Linked DNA regions of Homo sapiens. The protein of the gene in region 2 interacts with the protein of the main gene of each other region in a pairwise test. Each region holds a gene or a part of one and is shown on either strand. Other genes may lie near its edges. The genes, in order: EFNA5, SLC10A2, C3orf52 and UPK1B.

The links.
Region 1: the proteins of SLC10A2 (region 2) and EFNA5 interact in binary tests that used the Homo sapiens proteins (3 or more experiments, as listed by UniProt).
Region 3: the proteins of SLC10A2 (region 2) and C3orf52 interact in binary tests that used the Homo sapiens proteins (3 or more experiments, as listed by UniProt).
Region 4: the proteins of SLC10A2 (region 2) and UPK1B interact in binary tests that used the Homo sapiens proteins (3 or more experiments, as listed by UniProt).

Annotation. Positions count from the first base shown.
Region 1 is NC_000005.10:107,660,912-107,667,937, forward strand, and holds part of EFNA5 (ephrin-A5 isoform 1 precursor), read right to left. Parts: intron 1-7,026. UniProt on the Homo sapiens protein: Cell surface GPI-bound ligand for Eph receptors, a family of receptor tyrosine kinases which are crucial for migration, repulsion and adhesion during neuronal, vascular and epithelial development.
Region 2 is NC_000013.11:103,063,401-103,071,396, forward strand, and holds the start of SLC10A2 (ileal sodium/bile acid cotransporter), read right to left. Parts: upstream 3,018-7,996; 5' UTR 2,850-3,017; coding exon 2,473-2,849; intron 1-2,472. UniProt on the Homo sapiens protein: Plays a critical role in the sodium-dependent reabsorption of bile acids from the lumen of the small intestine. Transports various bile acids, unconjugated or conjugated, such as cholate and taurocholate.
Region 3 is NC_000003.12:112,103,389-112,110,414, forward strand, and holds part of C3orf52 (TPA-induced transmembrane protein), read left to right. Parts: intron 1-6,154; coding exon 6,155-6,225; intron 6,226-7,026. UniProt on the Homo sapiens protein: Has a role in LIPH-mediated synthesis of 2-acyl lysophosphatidic acid (LPA). LPA is a bioactive lipid mediator involved in different biological processes, and necessary to promote hair formation and growth.
Region 4 is NC_000003.12:119,197,583-119,204,608, reverse strand, and holds part of UPK1B (uroplakin-1b), read right to left. Parts: intron 5,553-7,026; coding exon 5,469-5,552; intron 693-5,468; coding exon 642-692; 3' UTR 1-641. UniProt on the Homo sapiens protein: Component of the asymmetric unit membrane (AUM); a highly specialized biomembrane elaborated by terminally differentiated urothelial cells.

The DNA.
Region 1 (7,026 bases), on a different chromosome or scaffold from region 2:
GGAGCTCCCGCCAGAAAACTACTGAAATAGGCGTAAAAGTTTATTGAAGCAGTAACAGTAAACAAATATATGAAGAAAGCACTGAATGCCACAGTATCTAAAACATTAATGGTCTGTCTGAACCCAGGGGTTACTGGCGAGATTGCAGAGCAGAGGCTAAAAGAAAAGGCCTTTAACAAAACCACTGCTTTCATCTGTCTGTTAAAAAAAAAAAAAAGAAGAAGAAGAAGAAGAAAAAAAAAGTATTAGCTAAATAAAGCAGGCAAACACTTTGCTGCAGCAGAACCATACATCTGAGCTTCCCTTAGCCTCCATTATCCCAACATGTTGAATAAAATTATTGGGAGGCAAAGATTTATAGCGACTATATGGACAGAGAAGCCATCCGGAAGCCACAAAAGCTCTGTCTGAGCCAAAGAAACATTTTCATAAATGGTAAGGTGAGAAACTTAAAATGAAAACTAAAAAGACTGATACTTTGGAGGTCTGCAAATAGCTACAGAATCAGTTTCAAGATCTCCATCTCAAAGTGTCAGTCACTTCAAAAACGCATCCTGCTACGATGGTGGCTCAGGACACTTGTGTGCCAGGGCAGTGGCCATGCTGTGCAAGTCAGAGGTCACCGCTTCCACATTCCGACATCTGTCTGTATTTTCTTGCCCTGAAACAATAGAAGGGGAACTAGGCTCATTTGCTCCCACTTTGTTTAACCTAATTGTTAGACACAAAAGATAATTTCCCATACTTAGAATTATTTTTTCCTTTTCCCCCCATTCTCATTTGTCTCCATAAAATTAAAAACTATTAAAAATGTAAGCACGTGAAGTTGTCTATACATTATTGAGTTCAGTAAATGTAACAAAGTTGTATATCCCACTGACATCTACAAAATATAAAACATCAAGTATCATGTCTGTCATCATCACAACCTAGATAACAATTTGCACTATAATTATCCAACCTAACTATGCCATAACCTCATTTAATTCAAACCACAACACTGCCTGTTTCATATAAAAATACTTTCATTTACTTTTATAATTTCCAGGGAAAGAGGCAAGAGCTAATTCTTAATTATAGTTTTTACATATATAAATAATTAATAAATTTTAAAATGGAAACTCTGACAGCTTGGAAACAGCAAGAAAAAAAACAAAAGGTATTTGTTAGTTCATTTAAAAACAAAAGGTCACTTTGAACATTCAAGTTATTTTAGTCTTCTCACTAGCCAAAGAAAAACAGATGCTAGATATCAGAGGAAAGTTTTCTGCGCAAAAATGGTCAACTCGTACCTGAACTTTAACCGCGATACATGTATCTGTTATTAAAACATGCATTTATTGCCTTTACACTACATCTACAACCACCCAAAATCCTACCTCTAATGAACTGAAGCAGTTTTTCATAAGTGACATAAGTAATATTTCACTGTGCCCAGCTTAATCAGGCTAAGTCAGGTTACTTTTGAAATTAATCTTACGGAAGCTCTGCTTTTACTGCAGTACATGAGAATAATGTTCCCAGCCATCATCAAACACATGCAGTAGTAAGCAGTATAGTATAAATTTTTAGTAAAGTTTATTAGGTCACTTGGTTTTCCAAATGTATCCAGAAATACAAAACATGACAGAAAATATAGCAGTCAGTTGATATACTCTCATAATTTTTAGTAACAAATATGAATTTACTTGTAAAATAATCTATGAGAACCCACAAGAAAGATTTGTTCTAATGTGATAGGAAGAGCCTATATTTCAGAGACAAAAAGGCTCTGACTTAATATAACGCATCTTAACCCCAACTGCTTCATATTTAGAGGTACCTATACTCTTATCAGTACCTTTTGCGGGAGAAAGATTCCGGGTAGACTTGAGTAATTAAAAAAAAAAAAAAAAGGCAACCAACAAATAAAAAGAACTACTTAGCATAGTCAGAAAAATGAAATCAGGATTTGAGGGTGGAGGTGACAATAGGGGCTATTAATATATCACTTTGAAGTTAGCCATAAAGTATAAGCTTCGAGAAAAAAATATGTATGGAAACATGGTACAGCCCAACATTTAACATTAATATATAATATGCCTGGGTTTAAGCATATTATTACTAAGTTAAAACATCCTTTTCTGTCAACTAAATATAAGAAGATAGCATTTTAGTAAGTTCGCAAATAAGATAGCGCTTTAAATGTAGAGAGCCCTGCCAAAATGATCATAAAGTGGTTTAGTCCTTTTCTATCGTCCATATTCATTTCCGAACCAATTTCACGAAAGAAATAAAATCGGTCTTAAAACAAGATGGCTGCTTCTAGGGGGGAAAAAAAACACGCTGATTTAACTGAAAGCCAAAAAACAAGCTTTTCTAAATCAGGAAATAAGCACTTAATCATATTTTTTCTAATCTCTAAGTAGGTATTCATGTGTTTCCAACATGGTAATCCATATATTATACTGCGTGGTTATTTTAAATCATTAATAGCAAAGCGATTTTTAAAACAGGTCTAATCAATGTGTACTAACAACATGATTGTCCAAGGCATATACATATTTGCTAACATATATGACTGTCCAGAGCATATGCCAAAACTCCCACTTTTAGTTCACACCAGAATCGTGATCATCAGTCATGAAAATCAGGTCACTTGATAAGCTATAATAGAAAGAATATTTATATCTTATATCTCCTAAGAATCCAATCATAAAACTTGCAGCAATATCCTATTACAATCAAATCAACTGTACTTGACTTTTTAAAAGTAAAAATCATAGGAACTTTACTGTTAGACGATCTCTCCTTGAGCTACACTTTGCTGACCCTCCCTAAAGCAACTGGAAGATCAATTCTGATATGCATATAAAAATTAAGAGCATTTTATCCATCTTGAAATAATTTTAAAATAGATTTTTAAAAATCATTCAAACGTATTTTTATTCCTCACTTGAGTGGAAAATAAGACCTGACAGTAACATTTTCTTCAACCTGTCAACTGTCAATTGTATGAAGGATGTTTCTAAAGATGACAAAGGTTTATTTTTCCTTATTGAAAATGATAGAATTCTACCTGAATGAAAGCTGAGCTAACCATCACTGTGGTACACTACTGTCTCTCAGCAACTAGCTAGCCTAAATAAGAGTTTTCAATATTTTAAAATAATGTTTTCATTGAACTATATGGTTTACTGTTTGAAAATTATATTCAGAAGCCTCAAAAACAAGAATTTGCATCCACTCAAATTTTTCAATTAGAAAATAGCACACGGATTTCAGTTTACAATAAATCCTTTAGAGAGTACAATAAAAAGTACTATCAAGAATATGAAGATATTAGGAATGATTTTACTCAAGATCATGCAAAATAGTTGTAGTCAGAAAAAACTTGATTAATTTTTAATTTTAAGCTAGATGGTCCTGTGTCATTGTGCTCCTTTATGACTGACTAAATTTTGAAAACATAAATGCAGACAAATTTAAGAGGAAATAAATCTCCTAGTAGTGAGTAATATCCTATTCAGAAGCACTGGAAGTTCACATTAATCACAAGAAACTTTTCTACAAAACAGCTCAGGACATAGGTTGAAAAGCAGACTAAAATATAAATTTGATAATATAAATCAGGCCCTTAAAAGAGACAGTAATTTATTGATGTTTGGCTGTCTAAGACCACCATCGTAAGACAAATTATTAAAAGTGAATATTAATACCTCATTTCTTATACTCCTCTTTGAGGATTTTATACCTGAAAATGAAGGTGTTATCCATCACAAATGATCAAAGGGCAATTTTTTTCCTCAGTTCAGAAAGCGGATCTGACTGAGTTGTCCTGGGTAAGAGGCAAGGACCTTCCTCACTGTGCTTAGGGAAATTGAGGCTTCCTTTGCAACATGGATATTCTAATCCGGAATGCTATTTTAACAGTTTGTATACTGCTTCTGAAAAGAAAATTGATAATATAGAATCGTCAACACAGAGTCGTTCATTATTTCAAACAAAATATCACAGCTTTTTAAGTCTTTATTGCTACCGAAGTTATTCAACACATGCACAAAAATGAGGAAGGTTGAGTGGTATCTTATAAAAAATTTTTAAATTTATATTGAAAACACAAACCAATAAGCCACTAGACCAAATGCTACCCAACATGTAAAATTCTATTCTTAACATATTCTCATATTTTGTTCATTTTTATTTTAATGCTTTCTCTCTCTCAAAGGTAAATTTTCTGGCATATACTTATCCCAAGCTAGCAAAGGCCAGAACTCCTGAAGGACTAATTGTATTCATTCATTTTCTTGGCCCAGCGTGAAGCTGGTAGCTTGCTTGGTTCATAGCAACAGGGGAGAAAAGGAGGCGCCCATCTTTATGTCCTTATCCAACAGGAAACCAGGCCAGTGGACAGAATGCAGTGAAATGCCTGTTCAGAAGGTATTCTGCAAGATTAAATGGCAAGAAATTCACAAGGTTAATTTGCACCCAAGTAACTAAGTGTTCCCTCCAAACCTGATCCTCAGCCTTCAAAGGTGGAAGCTTCTGAAGCTACTGTCAGCCACAACACACATGACAACAAGATATTAGTTCAGTGAGCTGATGGTTTAGTTATTACCACTAAAATCACCTAACAGAGAGTAATAAACTACTGAAGACTCTGATACTTTTAATCACTAGTAGTTTACTGACCTTGGTCTTACCCTGAAAATGCCAAATTAGACTGTATAGCCAAATCTGCCTCAAATAGCTCTAATGTTCCTATCATCTAAAAATCAGACAGTTGAGTATTTCTGATAGTTTATTGTGAATATATAAAATAATGAATCAAATAGGTAGAACATATCTTAGTAGCTAACTCTGCTTTTCAAAATTCTATGGAAAACTCACCAAAAAACAGGAATCATACTTCTCTTTTACAAATTTCTAGATTAAAAAGGGGGGAGGGTCAATTCACGTCTCTTATAAACATATAAGCATAAAAACATGGGTTATAAACCTCAATCATACTGCCTTATTTTTAGCCTGGTACTTGCATAAATTCTGATCTAAATTTCAGAGTAACAAAATTACTACCAATACATCTAATAATGTGATACGTTACACTGAGGCTTAAAGTTAATGCCTTTTACTTGAAAAACATTTATGTTTCTAACATACAAAATATTACTTAAAATATTTAAAATTTCAAAAGTAAGGACAATCTAAGTTTTGTGATGAAACTCATTCAAGACCAAGATAAACTTTCAATCTTTACTCACAACAAATTCTTAGATTTAAACCATGCTGATTTCATTTACTTGTCAGTGAAAAGGTCACAGTGCCGGCATACTGGTATACATATGTCAAAATGATGATGGCTCAGATTTTTTTTAAATGGAGCAACTAAATTTTGAAAGAAGAAAAATACTCAAGGGAATATGATTAGGAAAAAAAAAATGTTACTACTTCTCTCTTCTTAGCCACATACATTTGACCTGTACTGCCAGAGGACTTGGGAGTGTTGACCTAGAATTCACATTACTTTCACAACTCCAAGATTACGTGTTAACAAAACTAAAAGGTGTCAATTACCTGCTACTCTAATATGAAATGTTTAATATACAAGTCCCTACAAGAATTGAAAAAGTCCAAAGAAAACATGATTAGGTTAAAGTTTAGTAAATCCTTCATGACTTACACAGATATTTTCCTCTTAAGAGTATAACCTTTTAAATTGATGATACTCAAACCTTAACAGAAGCAAAGCACCAGGTTGAGGACGACTGGTATTCCTAAAAGTGTGTTGGTCATATTTGCTGCTGTATTATTTGACTATTGCATCAATAATGCCAACCAGTAGGAGATATGTTTAATTACCCTAATATCATTTCAGCAAATAGTCAAAATAATCCAAGAAGAACTTAGAATACGCACATGATGTTTAAAAGTATATTCTTATTAGAAGCACCAAACTGCTTATGGCATACTTCAGATGAAGAGGCATGTTCTTAGTATTATGACTCTCTTTATAAGCATAGCTACTAAAGGAGAATGTAAATAAACTTTTATTACTGGAAGTCTTTTTAACTTTATTTAAAAGCTTTTTACATTCTTAAAGAAATTAAGGACAAATAGTTATATTCTTCTTGATGTGGATTTTCATTACTCAAAGTTACTTGGTGACATTCCAGTTTAGAATTCAGAATAATATTAAAAGGATGATTTGATTATTTACACTTTTAGGTAAAACTTATACAAGTTTTCAAATTTTGGAAATATAGAAGATCTATTTAGGCAAATGTTATCATATATTTCTATTCAAACTGATAGTTCTGAGTGGCTATTTCACAAATTTGTGCCAATTCAACACATAAAAAAATCAGTTTGGTCCCCTATCCAATAAATACTACCAACTAAAAGTTATCAGCATTTGAAAACTCAGTATCCACTTCTCAGAAGTGAATACCTGGGTACATAGATTGTAACAGTAAAACTATTCTGACAGCAAATAAATTTAATATTTTTTCCCGTGAAACTACATCTATAGATGCTCATTTATCAATGGAGAGGCAGTAATGAAACTCCATGTAGAAGATAAACTCCTACCAGATACACAAGTGACACAAGTTACACAGTAAGATACTGTACTTAATCCCTGTGATCAAGATACATTTAATTCTGATTTTACCTAAACATAATTTCAAATTGAATCTGTTAGTATAAGCTAAAGTAGATTTACTTCGTTTAGACACAGTGTACATTATCATCAGTTTAACGTGCCCACTGAACATATTATATTCTGAGGGAAAAATAAAAAAAATTATTTAAGTTGCAATTAAAGTCCTCTATTCTTTTTTCAAAAGATTGAAGTCTTACTAGTTTAGCAAAATTTTAACAGATAGGTTCTATATAAAGACACAAAGCATGGCTAGCTTACTTTATGAAATAACATACAGGAAAAGGAATTGCACAACAGTGAATTTATAAAATTTACTAAACCCGTGGAAATTTTCTGAAATATTTTCTTACTATTGTTTGTGGAAAACTGTTAGTTTTTATTTTTAA
Region 2 (7,996 bases):
AACATAAACAGTCATGTCTTCATGCCATTGCTGGAGTTCAAGTGGAGATGGAGAAGGTAAAATTCTAAGTGTACACAACTGGAAATATAAATGTTAGATAGGATTGTATCTAAGTAAATTATCAGGAGACTTTAGTTATCCAGTTCTTAATCCAGAAGAATAAAAAGTTTTGGAAAACTGTTACGCAATAGCTCAGGTTTTACCCTTTTAATTAATTTGTATTAAAGAAATATTGGAATATTGTTTTCCTAACACACAATGCATAATGTCATCATCTTACATAGCAGTATAATTTAACCTCTTCTCAATGATTAAGACCGATCATGATAAACATGATTATCGGTTGTTCTAAAATACCGTGACATCTTCTTGTGTTTGTAGAAGAGTAAGTGATACAGAGACCAGAGACTGGAATAAGTGCTACAGAAACCAGAGAGAATAATTGATAATTAAGAGAGAATATGTGATAGAGAGAATAAGTGATAGAGGATAAATGATAGAGAGATGGCTGTGTGTTGTCAGTGTCTGCTTTGCTTTGCAGGCATTTGATCTTCTCTTTTGCCCTTCCTAACACTCTGCTTCCTTCCCCGCTTCTTATTTCTGGGAAATAGCACAACAGAACTTTAAAATAAAAATAGTTAAGTCGGTCCCGCATGAGGAGCATTTATGAGATTAAGTGAAATTTATTTTGGGTGTGCAGTGTCTTTTATTGGGTCTTGTTGAGCTCTGGATAGGTGAGGTTGCTCCATGTTGCGTTACAGGGCTTATTTTGACTTGCTGGAAGGATTCATTTGCACGGATTTAGCTGGAGGTTTCTACCAAAGCTTCATATTCTACTTTTAGTTCTTATTAAAAAAAATAATTTATAGGAATTGTTATGCTAGGTGGACAGGATTACATAATCATCTCCTGTTTCAAGAGAAATAAGATTTCCTTAAAACCACAGAAAAATGTAACTTGGAGCTTTTAGGTTAGATCTTACTGTTTTTAGCTCACAGAAGAGAATTCATTTCAACAACCTAATAGTCCAGTACCACACACGTTTTTTTTCTGTCTTATAAAAGGGTTCCATATGTGGTATTACATTGAGGTACAAAACTCCTCTGCACTAAAAGTTACAAATATTATGAGAAAGCTGTTTATTGGGGGTCAAGGCCCAATGTTCCAAGTAGTTCACTTTTCTCAGTGTAACAGGTGCTGGCATTTAGAATTCTCACTTCTGTGTACCTGTGTCCAGGTCAAACTAAATTGAGGTCTAAAAAGACCTTATTGCTATATCGTGGTTCACAGATTAACTAAACCTGAATAGCACTTGCCATCCTATGTTGTTTTATAGGGCTTTCCTTAAAAAAAAAAAAGCAATTGCAAGGTGGATATCATGTGTTTTCTTATGTGAAAGACTAAACCATATGAAGGTATAGGGTTTGTATGACTTTTCTAAAGCTTCTGGAGAAACCAGCACCAGTTGAAATGAGACAGCAGGTTCCTAATTGATCACTGGGTACTCTATCAATCCAGTGTTTACAATTCTACACTTTGTGCTTCTCTCCTCTGCCAATAGTAGCTGGGGATGAACAGAGCTAATTGCCTACTGTACAGTATTTAATAAGCACACGTTGCATTAGCACCTGGATGGTTTGCAGAAGGAAATGCATACCTTTCAAGGGAAATGAGGAATTGTGAGCTAAGGAAAAAGACATTTGTCTATTCAACTTTTAGCATTAAATTTCTCAATCTAGTCACATTAATGCTTCATCTTATTTCTATTAGTTTTTTTTTCCAGTGCTAGTTCAGACTGGCACGGGATGAAATGGGCAAACATTGCAATTTAGATTACTCTGTAGGAAGTGGAGAAAACGTTTTCTGTTTATTTTGTAGTAAGGTAAGCATAATTTTAAAAAAGCTGCTATAGGCTTTTTCCCCCACTTTTAATGCCAGTAGAGGTGAAGCAAATTTACAAATTCTTCCTTAGGTTTTATACCAGGAAAATGTTTGCCCAAAGAACTGGCTATATTTGATGGAGTTGACCACTGTCTCACTACAGGTTCTAATGTTTGACAAACAGTTTTATTTTATGATTGCACCCAGAGCTCCTCATCATTACAAAGAAAGTGTATTTTGCTTTTTTTTTCCTGCTACCAACAGGATAAACCTCCTCAGCTGCAGCTTGTGGTTTGGAAAAGATTACTTTTTTAAAAAAGCTTTGAATCTTTTCCTAGAGATCAACAGCAATTATGCAACTCCCTGTTAACTGAGTTAGATTTAAAAACACAAACACAAAATATAAATCCCCCAATTCCAATAGCTAAGCAGCTGTGCTAGAAGGCACGGGAATGCATTTATTCTCTCCTGTTTGATTCCTTAGTCATACTTTAGATGCGTGGCAAATCAGTTGGACATTCAGAATGCCATAGGCTTCTGGAAGGATTACTCCAAGGTGATTGCAGTAGTTAGAGGTATAGATAATCTTACCTCAGGTCCATGTCGCCATCGACCCAATAGGCCAAGATATTGGAGGCAGTTCCTCCAGGGCAGCATCCTATAATGAGCACCACTACGGCCTGGAGCGGGAGGATGTCAAAGGCCACCGACAGGATGAATCCTGTGAGGGGCATGATTCCAAACTGACAGAGGAAGCCAACACAAATGCCCCACGGCCGCTTTATGTGCCCTAGAAATTTCTTGATTTCCACGTTGCATCCCATGGAGAACATCACCAAGGCCAACAGGATGGTCAGCACCGTACTTAGGACCACACTTAGGATGTTATTGAAATTGCTCTCAGGTACCACACAGGATGCACCAGAGCAAACTGTTGCATTGTCCACACAGCTGTTCGGATCATTCATTGCTGGGTCTGCTGCTGGAAAGGCCAAGTCCACAGAAGCGCTGGTCCCTGGGCCCTGGCTCTGCTGCTGGTTGAGTTAAGCAACGTTTACTTCTACCCCATCAAACTTTTAAACCCCTCCTAAAAATATGTCACTTGGTGTCTCTTTTGAAAGCCACCTTAGGGAAGTAATAAAAAACAATAAAGCTAGGATGTCAGTTTCAAGAGGTAGCATTACAACACAGAGCACGTTGTGAATCACAAAAGTCCAGCAAAATTATTGGTCAAGACAGAGAGTTACGATTAATCATTTATTGGCATGATAATGAACCATGCCATATAAAAAGAGCCACGTTAATGTTTAATGTCCTCGAGGGTTTGTTGGATAATTTCAGTTAAGTGACTTTTAAAATCAACTCTGAATAGTACAGAATCTTATAGGGATTGAGCCATAGGAACCATGCCATATAAAAAGAGCTGTGTTAATGTTTCATGCCATGAAGGTTTGTTGGATAATTTCAGTTAAGTGACACTTAAAATCAACTCTGAATAGTACAGAATCTTATAGGGACTGAGCCATAGGAACACATATTGTTCTCCCATTTCCCTTTCAATAGAAGGGTTTAGGGCCCTGAATAGTTGAGTGCCCTGTGCCTAATTATGTTGCAAATCAGGTGTCAGACTCTGAACTGGGACCCAGATCTCCATCCAATTTCCACTCCCAGTAGTTTTGCTACTGTATCAGTGTTTCCTGGAATTGCTTTGTAGTGTCCATAAAGTATATGGAAATTTAAGAAACTTCTAGGGTCTTGGTGCAAATCTGAGAGAGTAACATTTGGGAAGATAGAATGTTTTCTGTGTTTCCTGGTGGAAAGGAGTCTGACTTGCACAGCCACCCTCAACTACTTACACATGCAATTATGTGTGCGTTGTCATAGTAACAGAGTACTTTATAGATGGAGACAATACAATTATTTAGAGGGATGAACCTCAGAGAATTAGGTCAAAGTGACAGGATCTCTTTGTGCTTGGAGTCATAAATTGAAATTCGATTTTTTTTTTTTTGGCAGGGGGATTCCAAGAGAGATTTTTGTAAATGTCAAATAGTCGACCTCATGCTGGGCAGAACGCTGTATTTCAGTATACAGGGAAGATAAAGAAAGAGGTAGAGAAGAGATTGTCCTGTTTTCAGGAGTTTATAACCCAGTTATTGAGTTAGGACACAGAGTAATAATAAAATTGAATATTCCGATCATGATTCACAATTTGTAGGACAAATTCTAATTTATTATTCAACTTAATCATCTTAAATTAAGTAGGATTAGCACTCCCATTTTACAGATGACGACTTAAGGGTTGAGGAAATTGAGTGCTTTAGATAAGGTTAAAGGGAAATGAGAGAACAACGTGTTTTCCTATGGCTGGTATCTGGAAATACTGGAACCGAGCGTTCTGATTATGTGAAGAAAGTGGTCGGTTTGGCTTGCTGGGGATTGGAGTAATATCTTAGAACAGAGCTTCTCAAAACTCAGTGTGAACAGGATTCCCCTGGGGGCCTTGTTAAAATGCAAATTCTGATTCTGGAAGTCTAGGGAGAGTTTTCTTTCTAGCAAGCTTGTAGTTGATGGCGATGACACTGATCTGGGGTCACACTTTTAGTATCATGGCTTCAGAATAGCAGAGTGACAACAGTTGTACCCATATTGGTGACAACGGAACTTACCGGTCACAACTGAAAGCAGCTTTTGCAGAGAAACTCAATATGGGAAAATTAACCTTTTTCATAACTGGAGTAAATGTGAGCTGTGGCTAGCAGAATGGGCCACTGAGCAGAAGAGCTAATAGAGTGAAATGCCCAAACCACAGGTGGGGGTGCCTAGGCATTGAGCTACTGGGAAAAACCTGAGCCATTTCCTTCCAGGGCAACCGTGATTTGTACTTGTTGATGTGGCTATCTGAGTGGTCACGTCCTGCCTGCCTTTCTAGCACAAGTGGGGGCTGCCATTGTCCCTGACCTGGCTGCCTGCCAATTCCTGGGAGAGCCTTCTGTCTTTCCCACCTCCTTCCCCACCCCAACAGCTAAATGATAAACCAGGTAATATCCAAAGAGGCCTCCCCTCCCACTCCTAGGTGTATCATGACTTGGCCCTACCCTGCTGGCTGCTCCAAGCATTTCCTGGGACTGACCTCTGGCCTACTTCTGTCGGGAGCTGGCCCTCCCCAGGGCAGATGAGCCAAGTGCACTCCCTGCTGCCACACCTGAGCATCTGCACCTAGCCGCTCACACCTGGGCACCTGCACCTGAGCACCTGTGGCTGGCTCTTCCCCCAACTCCCAAAGGTGGGTGAGGCAGATGCCCATGCAGTGGTGATCAGTTTACGGTCTCTCTTTTCTGATTTCTCTTAACCTCAAACATTAGGTGAAAGGCAGAAAGCTAGCCTAGGATTGAACGGCAAATAGCCTCTTCACCAGGTCTGATCTGCAAAGGAAAATTTGAGCCCTGCAGGCGGGAAGGATTTGGATTCTGAAATTTCTCTTAAAGTTGGAAGGCTGCAGTGCAAGGCCCAATGCACAGGGCTCAAGACAAGCATATTTAGACACCCTCCTTTGAACTCAAATGGGTTTCCCAGGGCAGGCCTCCTGTTTTGGGCCATGGCTGCTTCTGGGTTGGCCAGGTGTGATCCATACTTAGGCTTTTTGCTCACAGTGCTGGAAGCAGGGAAGAAAAGTGAAGGGAGCAGAAAGCAGGTTCAGAACAAAGCTCTTCTCAAATTTCAGATGACTTTCTAAGGAGATTTTAGGCTCCCAGGGGCAGAATGCTTTGCATATAGACAACTTGCAAATGAGCAGTCTGTTTGACTAGACAGAGTGCTACAGTTCTGCTTAAAAAAAAGTGCCAATGCATTTCTAATTTCACATTGTTTTTACATAAATTTGCACATTAGGCTTGAGAGGTTTTATATTCAAGTATCGGAATGATTCACAATTAATTAGTACCCTTAACTTCAGCTATATTCAAATCCAGACACTGAAAGTATCTAAATATATAAAAATCATTCTCAGGAAACAACAGGTGCTGGAGAGGATGTGGAGAAATAGGAACACTTTTACACTGTTGGTGGGACTGTAAACTAGTTCAACCATTGTGGAAGTCAGTGTGGCGATTCCTCAGGGATCTAGAACTAGAAATACCATTTGACCCAGCCATCCCATTTTACTGGGTATATACCCAAAGGACTATAAATCATGCTGCTATAAAGACACATACACACGTAAGTTTATGGCAGCACTATTCACAATAGCAAAGACTTGGAACCAGCCCAAATGTCCAACAATGATAGACTGGATTAAGAAAATGTGGCACATATACACCATGGAATACTATGCAGCCATACAAAATGATGAGTTCATGTCCTTTGTAGGGACGTGGATGAAATTGGAAATCATCATTCTCAGTAAACTATCGCAAGAACAAAAAACCAAACACCGCATATTCTCACTCATAGGTGGGAATTGAACAATGAGATCACATGGACACAGGAAGGGGAACATCACACTCTGGGGACTGTTGTGGGGTGGGGGGAGGGGGGAGGGATAGCTTTAGGAGATATACCTAATGCTAAATGACGAGTTAATGGGTGCAGCACACCAGCATGGCACATGTATACATATGTAACTAACCTGCACATTGTGCACATGTACCCTAAAACTTAAAGTAAAATAATAATAAAATTAAAAAAAATAAAAAATCATTCTCTTTAATTGTAATACGGAATTGGAAACAGATGCACACCTGAGAGGGGTAGTCAGGAGGCTGGAGCTTCATTTTCGTCGTCATCCTTCTCAGTCTTTTCTGCTACATTTTGTCACACCCTGGGCTCACATGCAGGCCACCCTCAAGAAACCAGGAGCCGGTTCCTGCTTCTGGCCGCCTGGGCGCAGACATGAGAATTTGACATCTGAGGCTTCCCTTTTGTTCCTGTGTATCAATTTGAGGAGGCCAGGGTTCAATAGCTTTCTAGCATGTTTGCCCTGAGGTTCACATGATAAAAGATGAGCTTCCTATCTTCTATTGTGTTTCATCACAAATGGCTCTATTCAGATCAATGGCCCTCTTGGATTTGATTGACTCTGTTAAGTACTTTCCTGTGACTGAAGTTATCTCCCTCTCTCTCCTCTCTAGTTCCTTTCTACAGATTGATCTTTTATGAAACCTGAAAGTCCCACAATTAGAGCTCTTTGGAGTTACCACTGACCCTCTTTAAGGCAACAAGTACCTTGGGGAGAATGCCCCGTGAATGACTAGCTATTCATTCTTGAGTCTTTAGAGGGAAAAGGCAGCATAGTATTGAGGAGAAGAAAGTAGGATAGAAGAACCTGGAATCTACTGGATGGAAAATGCACTAGGCTTGGAATCAGAACTGGGTTCTAGATCTGCTTCTTTTGAAAATACTGTGCAGACTATTCAGGTTTTTATGAATGAATGTGAATCCTTATTAAACATCTGTAGGATGGTCCCACCACTTTGGAAAATGATTATAGCTAAATGTCCATATGCCCTCCGACCCAGCCATTCCAGTCCTAGGTTTCAATCTAAAGAAATCTATAAATTAAGTTCCCCAAGAGACATGAACTAGAATGTTCACAGTGACTCCATTCATAATAGCGTCAAACTGGAATCTATCCAAATGTCCATCAAGGGTAGAATAGGTAAATATATTGTGGTATATTCACACGATGGACTTCTATACATCAGCTGGATGAGTAATCTACTACCACAAATCTAATGTTGAGTGAAAGAAACCAGAAACTAAAGAACACATACAAAAACAGGCAAAGCAAATCTATGGTGTTAGAAGTTAGGATAGTCGTTACCTTGGCAGTATGGAAGATCAGAGACTAGGAGGGGTCACAAGTACCAATACTTCAATATAAAGTAAACAAAAACAAAAACAAAAATCAACCTGACACATTTGATAAGAAGAGATTGGGGAGTGGTCTGTGCCCATGCCTAGAGAAGGCAGGAAATGACACTAAACTTGAGAAGAAGTCAGGAGAGAATAAAGGCTGGGAGTAGAGATGGGAGGAGAAGTTGGGGGGTAGGGCTAGGAGGTGGGTAGGTGGATGGCTAGTTCACTTTCATCGTTTTAGCAAGGGTTGGCTCTGTTA
Region 3 (7,026 bases), on a different chromosome or scaffold from region 2:
AGTAAATATCTTTACTGTAGTGCAAAGCCAGAGGGAAGATTCCTGGCCTCCAGCTGCATAAATGCTGGAGGACACTGTTCTTTTTACTCCCTTAGGTCCTACATTTAATTCAACCTATAGTATTCATTGAGGGTCTGTGATGTGCTAGACAGCATGCCAAGTGCCAGGGCCACATTGTCTGTGCCTTCAGGGGTCTCACAGTCCAAGTACAGGAAGTGACTAAAAAGATCGTTTTATAATAGTGTGGTATGTTCTAGTGTGTTGTACAGTGGCAAAGGAGGGGCATCTGAGCTACCTCAGGTGAAGATGAAGGCATGAAAGGCCTGTTAAGTGAAGTGATGCTCAGGATGAGTTTTGAAATGAGGTAGGAATGTTCTAAATAAAAAAGCATGGGACATTAAAGGATCTGCAAAGTAGTGTACTGTGGCCTTCCCATGCTTTGTGGTGACAGCTGGCAGAGATAAGGCTAAAAAGGAAGGCAGGCGTCAGGTCATGAAGGCTTTCCCACTCTTCAATAAGGCACCAAAATATTTTAATCAGCAGATTGACACAGTTAGATTTTTCCTTTTAGCCTTTCTGTGTTTTGGTGGAGAAAGCCAGGAGGAAGAGATCAGTTAGAAGGTGTTACAATAGTCCAGGTGAGAAATGAGGGAGACTTGAACTAGGGCAGTGTCGGGAAAATAAGGAAGATTTGCGTGAGATTTAAGAGGTATTCTCACTCAATAAGAGTCCATGACTGATTGGGTGGTGGTGAGGAGAGCATGACTCCAAGCTCCAGTTGAGTGATTGGGCAGATGGATGGCGGTGTCAGTCATGGGATGAGAAACCCAGGAGAATGAACCCTCTGTGGAAGATGGAAGCTCTGCAGCCAGACTAGGACCGTTGGGTGGGGCATCCTGATCATCCTGTCAAAGACAAGGTGGTTCACAGCCAGACCCAGAAATTTTGATAAGAAAATCTAGGCAAGAGCAGGCTGCCCTCCATTAAATTCTTCTCTGCCATTGCTAGGTTGAATGGAGTGAGTGCTGTTTATCTAACTTCCATTCGATTTGATTCCTACAAAAGCTCCTGAAGAGGCGATTCCATCCAGGTCACATCAGAATCAGTTTCTGGGTACCCACGCATGAGATTTCATTGCTTCTTTTATCACAGGAGTTGGTATCCTGTGATGATTACTCCAGATTTCTCTTTCTCCTTCTCTTCATTTATATCTTTAAATTTTTTTTAGATTGTTTAAATTTATTTATTTATTTTTATTTTTTATTTCCGTAGGTTTTGGGGGACCAGGTGGTATTTGGTTACATGAATAAGTTCTTTGGTGGTGATTTCTGAGATTTTGGTGCACCCATTACCCGAGCAGTGTACACTGTGCCCAATTTGTAGTCTTTTATCCCTCACCCCCACCACCTTTTCCATCAAGTCCTTGAAGTCTCTTCATTTATGTCTTATCTTCACCTCCTTTTCTCCTTTCCTTCCACCTGCTTCCTGGGGCAAGTTGCTGAGTGAGACGCTTCTTGCTACTTTCCTCTTGGCTGCTTTTTTAATGGAGAGGTTTTTGCATTTGCTGAGCAGAAATAAGATGAGTCAGCATCCACATGTGTCACCTGTTGCATAGTAGACTGTCTATTTCAAAGGTAAATGAATGTTCATTTTTCATTTTACAACCATATATCTTGCACAGAGTCAGATATGAGGAAATTCTGCGGGTATTTTGAGCTCATCACTAGGTAGTGGCAAAAGAACAGGGACTGACATTGATGCCTGTGGTGGGTCCACAGATTTCTTTGAGCCAGTTTCTTCGCTGATAAATGGAAACCAGTGCACTTTCTCTGTGTATCTCAGGTGCAAATGAGATTACATAAAAATAACTTGAAAAACATTTTAAAAGAATTATCTTATTTACAAATGATCAAAGTAAGGCATAGTGAGGTGACAGATTCCTGCCCTTCATTCGTCAACCAAATATGCTCAGGAACAAAAATTAGCACCTAAAGGTATTGCTGTCTTATTGTCAGGTCAATAACTCCTTTCTTCCATTAGGTCAAGTTTCAGAAGTTTCTGGATATAAAAGGTAAATGGAAGTGGGTATTTGTGGGGGAAAAATTATTTTTTTCTCTATACCCACATTCAATGCAGAACACTTCTTTGGCCGTGTGTGTGTGTGTGTGTGTGTGTGTGTGTGTTTTCCACACCAACCAATTATCTGCCACCAGCTGGGTGTCTTGCAATCCAGTTCAATTCTGACATGATCTGCCTGGAGTTAGTGCAGACCCCATAGTTTAAGGGTTCAGCCCCACAAAACTTCCCTCATTTAAGATGCCAGTTACGGGAGGCTGAGGCAGGCGAATGGTGTGAACCCGGCAGGCAGAGCTTGCAGTGAGCCGAGACCGTGCCACTGCACTCCAGCCTGGGCAACAGAGCGAGACTTAGTCTCCAAAAAAAAAAAAAAAAAAAGATGCCAGTTCAGTTACAAGTCTAGGTTGTCACTTGTGCTTCTGACCAACCAGCTGCAAATTGGAGGTCTCCAAAACCCCCACCTTGGGTTTGGTCATTTGCTAGAATGGCTCACAGAGCTCAGGGAAGCATCACATTTATGGGCACACTGTAGAAAATAGAGGATATCAAAAGCCAGATAAAAAGGTACATAGGGCGGACACGTGGGACAGAATGTGGGCATCCATGTCCTTTCAGGTGTGCCACTCTCCCTTGTAAATGTGTTCAGCCACCTGGGAGCTCTCCAGACTCTGTCTTTTAGGGATTTTTATGGAGATTTCCTCACATAGGCATGGTGGATTATTAGCTTGCTTTCCAGCCTCTCTCCCCTCTGGAGGATGGGGGTGGAGGTGGGGCCAAAAGCTTCAGATTTCTTCTTCTTCTTTTTTTTTTCTCCAGACAGTTTTCACTATATTGCCTAGGCTGATATCAAGCTCCTGGCCTCAAGCGATTCTCCCTGCTCAGTCTCCCGAGTAGCTGGGACTACACGCATGCACCATCCCACTCCACCACACTGGCTGAAAGTTCCAAGCTTCTAGCTGCGGCTTGGTCTTTCTGATGATCAGCCCCCATCCAGCAGCCCGCCAAGAGTTGCCTCATCAGAAATAAAGACACTCCTATAACCCAGGAAACTGCAAGAGATTTAGGAGCAGGTCTGTGTCAGGAGCTGGAGTAAAGACCAAATGTTAGAGTAAAAGATGTACCCGGCGCCCCTGTCACTCAGGAAGTAACAAGGGTTTTAGGAATTCTGTGCCAGGAACTGGGGCAGAGACTAAACAGTATACATATTGTTATTATATCACAGTATTGGAACTTTATGCCCTTTCCCTTGACTTTTCTAAACACAGGCCCTGCCATGTGTCACTGCCACAGTGTTTTCCTCTCAGGGTTGGGGCCATTACTCTGCTTAAGCCAGCCTGTGTGACTACCACACCCTGTGCATGGGTTAGGAGTTAATGATGGCACCTGCCTTATTCTGGAAGCTGGTCTCTAATTAGCCACTGCATCAGACTCAGCTAATCAATTCGCTGAGCTCCTTGCTCAGTTTGCACCAAGCCTCATAGACATTGTGTGGGAGACACAAGACTAAGGGTTGAGGAACCACCCTATTTCACTTCTTTGGGCCCAAAGTGGACAGTGTGACTAACAGCTCCCCAAATGTAAATATGTCCTAAGTACAGCAGAGGAGCATGATCAAAAAGAATCTTCGAGTGAACACTAAAAATGATTTAGTCGACCACTCCATATGTTACCTTAAAATTTTAACTTAAAAATTTGCTGAAAGCCTGTTATGTGCAAAACACTGTGCTGGGCCCTAAAGATTAATAAAGGAAAGAAGGGAAGGAGGAAGCAGAGAAGACTGGAAGGAAGGATAAATATCACCTTTGCCATAGGAAGCTCAATCCAAAAGGAAGAGAAAGACATGAGTGCTTGACATTAGTGCTTGAAAAGATTCTCCTCTGCAGCATCCTCATCCTCCTCTCCATCACAGCATCCCCGTGAAAGCTGCTTTCCTAGTTCCCGAGTTTTCTAAATGACTGTCAGCCTATCGGCAACATCCTGTGCATTGGGGCTTAAGAGCTGTACAATGACTCAGTCATTTTCTCCGAAAGTTTTTGTCACTTTAAGCTTCTTTCCTCCTTGATATTCAGGAGACACTTTCCTTCACTGTATATATATCAATTTCTTCTTCACTGGGTAGTGTGGTCAGATGGGAAGAAGCTGGTTTTTAGTGTTCATAACATGTAGGATTGAATTTTGGCTTCTCCTTTTACTAGCACAGTGACCTGGGACAGGTTTTCTTCATCTCATGGAATGGAGTGCTGTTTAATTTTCCAGTAAAAAGGGGAGATATATTAATGCCTGTTTTGCCAGGTTTTTATAAAGATCACAACAGTAGTGACAAGATTAGAAGAGCAGAAATAGCAGGCACTCTCATCTTTTGTTCTCTTTGAGATATGGGTTGTACATGTTGAGTTAAATGGGAGTGTATTGTGGAAGTGCAGCGTCCTTGACATTCCATTTGGAGTTGAGGGGAAACAGGGTAAGCTCCCCATAGGGCACTGCTGTTTTTTGTATGTTCGACTGCTTGTTATTGAATAAAGTAATAGGTCATTAAGCCATAATGGCTGTAGCTGGGGATGGCACATGTTCCTAGTACTACTAGTTTAGGATTCAGATATCTGAAACACAACTACTCAATGCCTGGGAAAAGATACTTGTAACATAATATCAACAACTAGTATCCAGAATATAAAACTAACCACTTCAGATAGATAAGAAAAAGACAGATAAGCCAAGAGAAGGAAAGGAAATGAGTGAGAAATTCAGAGATGAAAAGTCCCAAAGAGTTAATAAACATGAAAAGATGTTCAACCTCACTAGTAAGCGAGGCAGTACAAATTAAAACAATGTGAAGCACTATTTTATACTCCTCGGAGTGGTAAAAATTTAAGTTTGGTAACACTAAGTGCTGGTAAGGATGTGGGAAATGGATATTTATACATTGCTGGGAGGGGTGGGAAAGGGAGAACAATTTTGTGAAGTTGGAGATGCACCTACCCTTAAACCCAACAATTCCTTTTCTTGGCATATGCCCATTGGAAACTCCCGCATGTCCAAGAAGAGATGCATGGAGACATTAAGGATGATTGCTTCAGCATAAGTTGTGATGGGGAAAATTGAGAATAGTGCATGTGATCATCATCAGAGGAATGGATAGGCTGGTATACTCATTTAAAGGAATCTGTGCAGGAGTTAGGTGAATGCCTTTCATTGAGATTTACTTTATGGGTAAATCTTAAATGTAATTTTGAGTGAAAAAAGGCAAGTTTTAGAAGATTATGTAGAATATGGTGCCTTTTATTTGAATAAAAACACAAATTATATTTTGTTATGATTACATAAATAAGTAGTAATTTGTAAAAATATGCAAGGAAAGGATGCATGCCAGCTTCAGAATGATGGTTAGTATTAAGAAAGAGAGAGAGGAGGAACTGAATAGTATGTAGGAGTCACTTTAGCTTTATTTTGTTTCTTAAATTAAAGGGCTGAACCCAATATAGCAAATATGAAGACATGAAAGCTAGGTAGTGGAAACACAGGTGTCATTATTTTTTATGATGCTTGCAATATTTCATGCATAAAATAAAGCCTCCATATTTTTGCAGTTCCCCTCTTTGTCTCTTTGTCCAGGGGATGTGCTAGACCCATGGCTTAGCATGGCTGTTTGTCTTTACACTGAAGCTCTGGAGAAGGGAGAAAGAAGCCCTGGGCTAAGCAATGTCCCAGGTGCTAAGTGGTCTGTGCTGCTGCTGTCCAGCAGCCATTTTGGGGTCTTCTCTTCTCTCCTTCCTATGGTCTGTGAGGCCTGTGTGGGCTCCAGCTGCTGATATTCTCACCACTAAGGCCACAGGGTGCCAGTGCAACTTCTGAGAGAAACTGAGTCATTTGGTCCTTATAAATGGAGTTCTTTTGAAGTAGCATTAACTTGAGTTTTGATTTATGGTGGGCTCAATTCTTGATCCAGAGCTTCCAGATAACGTTGATTCCAGGCTGGAGTGGAATCTCCTCTGCCTTAGAAGCAGTTTTGCTTTGTCAGGTGATGTGTAATATGATCTGTCGGTAATGTGTGTGGTTTAATTTGCTTCTGTTTGTTTAGCTCACAGATGTGTACAGTACATCGCCCTCTCTGGGTCGTTATTTTACTTCAGTTGAAATAGTGGACTTCAGGTAAGAGTGTGGAACATTACATTTTGCTCTCTTTCTCTGGAAAGAGATCCCCCCACCCCACCCTTCGTCATTTACCTAGCAGGGATTCCCAGAGCCTCAGAGCATGAAGGGAACCTGTAATAGAATCACAGAATGTCAGTGCTGGGAAGGTCTTTTACACCAACAGGCTCAACTCCCTTATTTTACAAATGAGAAAAAGGAAGCCCAGATTAATGGTATAATTCAACCAGGGTCACACAGAAGAGGGGAAAAGCCAGTCCCAGGTAAACCATTTCTGTTTAACAATGAATGCTCAAATAAGCTAAGGGTAGAAGTAGAAATAGATCTCAGGTCGTGCTGTGATGCGAGTGATACATGTATAGGCATTTGCTTTTGAGGAGCACAAGTAATACAGGAGTACATTCTCCTTGTTTAGTATTAAAGATGTAAAGAGGGGCCGGGCGTGGTAGCTCACGCCTGTAATCCCAGCACTTTGCGAGGCCAAGGCGGGCAGATCACTTGAGGTCAGGAGTTCAAGACTAGCCTGGCCAACGTGGTGAAACCCTGTCTCAACTAAAAATACAAAAATTAGCCAGGTGTGTTGGTGGGTGCCTCTAATCCCAGCTACTCAGGAGGCTGAGGCAGGAGAATCTCTTGAATTCGGGAGGGGAGGTTGCAGTGAGCCGAGATTGCGCCACTGCACTCCAGCCTGAGTGACAGAGTGAGACTCTGTCAAAAAAATAAAAATAAATAAAAATAAAAAAAAGAAGACATAAAGAGGTATGCACAGGAAAAGTCTCCCTTCTGCCTCCTTTCTTCTCC
Region 4 (7,026 bases), on a different chromosome or scaffold from region 2:
CCCCACGCCCAGCCCACACTTTTAATTAATGGAGAATTGAGGCTACTAAACACATACTTCAAGGTATGAAAGGAAATTTGAACCACTGTTAAGAATTATTCTGGAGAATAAAAGGATCTGAAGGTGGCATCAAGAGAATCACCCATCTCCATATATGGGAGCTACTCTAGAAAGAAATGCAAAAGGTATATTTCAGTAATCTTTTCCCAACTTCTCTGTTCCCCTGACAATACTGAGATCAACAGAAGCATTGGAAGGTTTCTTTTAGATAATAGTGAGAGATACAGGCAGATTGCTAGCCAAATACAGCTCTGGGTTACTGTGATAACACAGGTTCCTTCGAATGTATTTATTTTCCCAAATTAAAAATAAGCAGGGATGGAAGTAGTTATTATGCATTTTTCAAATTCTCCTTTCAACAGTCTATATAAATGTTGCAGAATGCTAGACTAGGATGAAAAGTAGGAGTCATGAGAACTGCAGAAGCCTGAGATCCTAAAGGAAGTCCGTACCATCTGACTTGGCAATGTAAGACACACACGTTAGTGTGGGGCACAAACGTGGAATATTAGGAGAGAGCTGGTTCCAGCACCAAATCCAGAGTCACTCGGGGAAGGAGGTATGGTGGCAACACTTTATGCTTAATATTCAATTCTGCTCCAGTAGAACATGGTACCCAGGAGAACCCAAAACTGGAATAGAAAAAAACAAGGAAAAATAAACAAGGGATTGTTTTAGAAACATCTCATTCTTGGAAAAAGTGGATGTTAGGTTCATTCAGGCTTAGGTGACAACAGATTTTTTTGTTTGTTTGTTTTTATTTCTTCTAAAAAACCAAAACAAAAACAGGATACATGTACAGAACGTGCAGGTTTGTTACACAGATGTACGTGTGCCATGGTGGTTTGCTGCACCTGTTGACCCATCCTCTAAGTTCCCTTCTCCTCACTCCTCACCCCTCAGCAGGCCCTGGTGTGTGTTGTTCCCCTCCCTTTGTCCATGTGTTCTCATTGTTCAACTCCCACTTATGAGAGGGAACATGCAGTGTCTGGCTTCCTGTTCCTGTGTTAGTTTGCTGAGGATGATGACTTCCAGCTTCATCCATGTCCCTGCAAAAACATGATCTCATTCCTTTTTATGGCTGCATAGTATTCCATAGTGTGCATGGACCACATTTTCTTTATCCAGTCTATTGCTGATGGGCATTTGGGTTGGTTCCATGTCTTTGTTAGATATCAGATTTTTTTTTTTTTTTTTTTTTTTTTTTTGAGACGGAGTTTCGCTCTGTCGCCCAGGCTGGAGTGCAGTGGCGCGATCTTGACTCACTGCAAGCTCCGCCTCCCGGGTTCACGCCATTCTCCTGCCTCAGCCTCCTGTGTAGCTGGGACTACAGGCACGCGCCACCATGCCCGGCTAATTTTTGTATTTTTAGTAGAGACGGGGTTTCACCGTGTTAGCCAGGATGGTCTCGATCTCCTGACCTCGTGATTTGCCCGTCTCGGCCTCCCAAAGTGCTGGGATTACAGGCGTGAGCCACCACGCCTGGCCTAGATATCAGATTTTTAAGAGTAATCTCGTTATAAGCAACATCACTGGGCCAGATGTGACACCAAATCCATCCTGCTCCAAAGCATCACTTATTACCTGCCACTCAGAAGCAACTTCTGTGTTCCCCACGTTCTGATCCCAGTTCTCATCCTAGATTCCTTGTCTTCTGGGGTTGCCCTTCTCGTCTGTGCTAAACTCTTTTTGCCATCAAGGCCACTTATCCTCCAATGCCTTCCTGTTTCTAGTATGTACCATTTCGGGGTAAGCATTCCTTGCTTCTAGTATTAAACTTCTCCCAGGGAACTTCTATTTTTTCCTAAAATGCTTGTGCCCTGGAATGGCTGCCTCTGAAGAATGCCACAGAACTCAAGATATCTGACTTAGGCAAGGGCTGAGTTTTATTTTAGTTTATTTGGGCTCTGTTTTAGATCTGGTACTTACTCCTGGGTAACTTTAGCCAAGTCACTTAAATTTCCTGAGCTTCAGTTTCTACATTTATAAAATAAATATAACATCTCTACCTACCCCAAGCTAGAGCAGTGAATGAGATAATGAAATAATAACAGGGTCTAATGTTTATTAGAATACCTTATTATGCATCACTCACTATTCTAAGTGTTACCCATATAACTGAAGTTAATGCTTCCAAAACCCTATGGAGAAACGGAGGCACAGAGAAGTAACTTACCCAAGGTCATAGAACTAGTAGGTGGTGGAGGTGGGATTCAAACCCAAGCAGTCAGCTTCAGAGCTTATCTAGTTAATCACTAAGAAAAAGCCCCTTGCAAGCAACAGTGAAATGGGCATGCTTAAGAGCTCTTATTAAGCACAATTCTTGAGAGCCCCACTGAATTTCTCTGCTCCTTGTAAGACAGGACACTGGCTACCTGCTTAGCTACTGTTGTGGGGATTTAATATTAAAAATATTTGACATGGTACCTTGTTTATAGCAGGCCCTCAATACATTTAATCATTTAATTCCCTTCCCTTCCCTTCCCTCTTTTGAATTTCAAGAGGGAATTAACTAGATCTAGAGTTTATTTGATACTTGTGGAAAATCAAGGGTTACAACTGGTTTGGAGTTCTAAGATACTCAAAGCCTTTAAACATTATCCCACAGTTCCTGCTAATATGGCACAAATAGAAACTTCACTGTTACCTTTCATTCATTCAACAAATGCTTGAGCCCTTACTACATGCTATGCTTGGCACTGGGGGTACAAAGAACAGCTAGTTCTCAGCTTTTTGCAGTCAAATACATCATCATGGAGAAGTTCCATCATAGAGGTGTGCTCAGGATGTTGTGAGAGCTCCTAACAGGTTGGGTTGAGGGATCATAAAAGACCCCTTGAAGGAGTTGATTTCCCTCTCCTTCCTGCCTCACTCAGTTTATCACCCCCTAAGCTAGCATTTCTTAAAGCATAGTGATATGGTTTAGCTGTGTCCCCACTCAAATCTCATCTTGAATTGTAGCTCCTATAATCCCCACATGTCATGGGAGGGACTCGATGGGAAATAATTGAATCATGCGACCGGGTTTTTTTCTGTGCCGTTCTCGTGATAGGGAATAAGTCTCATGAGATCTGATGGCTTTATAAAGGGCAGTTCCCCTGCACACGCTGTGTTGCCTGCCGTCATGTAAGACATGCCTTTGCTCCTACTTCGCCTTCTGCCATGATTGTGAGTCCTCCCCAGCCATGTGGAACTGTAAGTCTATTAAACCTCTTTTGCTTTATAAATTATGCAGTTTTGGGTATTTCTTCATAGCACTATGAAAATGGACTAATACACATAGTAAACACCTGAGGGACAGTTCAGAAGTCCATTATGTAAGGCTATCTGAATAACAATGAGAATTTATTTGCCTTTTTCACTGTTTTCATATTTGCACTGATGGTGTAAATGCAGTGGGAAGTAAAACTCCTGGAGTATTAGCAAGAATCAAGGCAGAGTCACTAAACTTTGTTAGTGATCATTGTGTCTTCACTGCTACGCACTTGCAGTAAAAAAAAAAAATTTAAAAAGCCAGTTTCACTTGAGATTGTCCTCAATGAAGCAGTAAGAACTACTAATTTTATTACATTTTGGCCTTTGAGTACACATCTTTTTAAATATTCTGCATGACAGAAAGGAAGTATTCATTCATAAAACAGTCTGTTGCATAGTGTAATATGGTTGTCTTAAAAGCACTTGCATGATTAAAAGGAAACACCACTTTTACTTTAAAAAATGATGAACAGACACGCTATGGTTGTTTGGACTTGGACATGTGGCAGATATTTTCTTGAAAATTTACAAAGTGAGTCTGTCACTTCAAGGAAAACAACTGACAATATTCATTGCCAATGATAAATTTGAACTTTCAAGCAAAAATCAGAACCTTGGAAAACTTGTAGTTGTCACCGTGAACTTGATAGCATTCCATTGCTTAAGGTATTTTCCATGTGGCAATATCAATGCCACATGTGATTTTCTGGATATTGCATACATAAATCAGTTAACATTTGGAAGATCTGCATAACACAATGAACTAATATTTTTTCCAAATAAGCAATCTATGATGTTATAGAATTATAAATGGCTGAAAGATATATGCAAAGTGCAAGACAAACCAATGTAATATATTTTAACATAACAGAGTATGAAAAGCTCATTAACAGAATTTCAGATTCCAAATTGCAACTGATCTTTAAGAAGCTACTACTTGTGGGCTGGGTGCAGTGCTCATGGCCATAATCCCAGTGTTTTGGGAGGCCAGGGTGGGAGGATTGCTTGAGGCCAGGAGTTCAAGACCAACCTAGGCAACAAAGTAAGATCCTGTCTCTACAAGAAATAAAAAAATTAGCCAGGCACAATGGTGTGCACCTGTGGTCCCAGCTACTGGGTGAATATTATTAAAGCACTATTTTTTTAATTACATGTCTATATGAAGGATGCATTTTCTCCAGATCATTCAACCTAGGCAACATATTACAACAGATTGAATGAAGGTGCAAATATGAGAATCTAACTGTCTTCTATTTAGCTAGTCATTGAAGAGATTTGCAAAAAAGTCACTATTATAAAATAGTTGTTTTTCCACAAAAATGTGTTGTGATAACTTTTAATGGGCTTATTATTTTAAAATAAATATTTTAAATTTTTCTATGTTAATTTCCAATGGGGTAAATGCCAATAGATATAGGCCACATAGAGAAAAGCTTTCTGGAGTCCTCAATAATTTTTGAGAGTGTAAAGGGGTTCTGAAATCAAAAGTTTGTGACTGCTTCTCTAAGGCAATGGTTGTCAACCCTGACAGCAGATCATCTGGGGGAAATAAAAGTGCCTTGGCTCAACCCCCAGGTCAACTAAATCGAAGTCTCAGAGGTTGGGATCCAAGCAATTTTTAAAAAAAGTTTCCCCATGGCGTTTTAATGTGTAGCCAGGGCTGAGAACCACCGCTCCAACCTCTTGCTGCATATGCGTCAGATAAAGTGGGCAGTAGGAAAGGATGAATCTGCCAGAGGCAGCTCTTTAGAAGGATCTGGGCATATTAGTATCAGGCAGGGGCCATCTAGATAGGTGACAGTCTTTGATATGTGGATGAAATGAATTAATGAGATCTGGAGACCAGGAGGAGCAGTTCACTAAGAACTCTGGCAAGGGAAAGAGGCTCTCCAGCCCTCTAAAGGCAGCTGCCCATCAGCCGGAAGAAGGAGCTGGTTGGCAGGGCACAGCCTTTCCCTGGTAGGGGAAGTTAACTCCTTGCCTCTCAAGAGAACCCACTGTCCTTCTTCCGGTGCCAGAAGTTTCCTGACTAGCCTTCAGGCCTGAGGTTTTGTTTCTAGACTTTCTAGTGTGGTTGAGGTAACCAGTGGCACTCTCAAGGTCTCTCCGTATGATCATCCTCTCAGATAAAATATGTGCTGGGAAATACTCACAGTCCAGCAGAGAATGGCAAATCCAAACCAGGCAACCCCCCAGGCGTGTCGGTTCATTGGACCAGAGATCAGTTCATAGCAGCCCTGAAGGAGTGGGCAATTCCACATTAGTGTGAGAAGAACCAGAAAGCAGAGAAGAGATTGATGGGAAAGCAGGTTCCTATTGGAATCAATGCTACTCAAAATTCTGATTTCACATATCCAGGCTATTTCCACATCTCTGAGGACAGCCAGCTACTAATAGTGCTTTACTAAGGGAACATAAACAATACTGTTGAACAATGATTCCACAACACATTTATTTGTGTCTTTATCACTTAATCTCACTAAAAAGTACTGCTATTTTAGCATAACCCTCTTTCTATACTGAATATGTGGACAATAAATTCAAAAATCTTAATTCAATTAGAATTTTTCCCTCCCCAAAGGCTTCGTTGGTGATTTATTTGGAGGCAGTTACTTTTTGATTTGTTTGTTTTTGAATAAAAATGCTTCTGTCCATGAAAACCAGAGGTCCCCTGTTGCCATTTTTAATAATCATTAAAGGAACTCCTGCATTATGCTCCCTGAATTCTCATTTGATGTTATATTTCAACATATCTTTACTGGATTCTAGTGAGACCTTGAAGGGTCACAGTGAGCATGCAAAGGAATAATTTTTTTATTCACCAAATCATCCATTCATGCATGCCACAATCCAGTAAGTATTTATACATGGCGCACTCTATCCTAGTCACTGTGCAAAGTTCTGGAGTGATACACGCATGTAAGGCTAGAGCTGCCATCTGAGCAGCCTCTACCAAAGCTCTGGGAACCAAAGGGAATGCCTAGGAAATGCAATAACCAGGGCTGGTTCCATGGACCATGCGGCTCTGCCTCTCACCCCATCTTCCACTACCAGAGGAGGTTTCTCTATAAAGCGAATGAGCTTAAGCTTCAGGGCCCCTTACTTGCAAGACCCTTTCAAGGCCCTGTGCCTAATTTTGTATGCATATTTTTATTGTTTTTCCTAAGAAGGATCCTTCCCTATAATTTGTGTGTGAGGGTGGGGGTGGGGGACTCCAGCCACAAAAAATCTAGCTCCATCCTTGTCATCTACTCATCCTTCACTCATTCTGACTTTGTCATACTGATCTCCTTTATGCTCCTTCAAAAAGCTGGGCCTGCTCCCACTTAAGGGCCTTTGCACTCACAACTCCTTTCTTGTAGAACTTTCCTCCCCAATCTTCCGGTGTCTCATTTTCTCACTTAATTCAAACCTCTGCAAATATCATCTCAACAAAGCCTTTCCTGACAGTGACAGAGAAAAAGACCCTTTCTCCATCCTACTCTATATACTCACCCTGCCTTATTTCTGCTCATGGCCTATTTGGGCCTGGAATTTTATCATGTATTTGTTTGGTAACATGTTTATTTTCTGTCTCCCATGCTAGAATGCAAGCTCCATGAGGGCAGGGATTTTATGTTGTTCACTGTTGAATTTCTAGAACCTAGAACAAGTGCTTGGCACATAGTAGACACGTAATAAACATTTACAGAATGAATGGAACATTAATGT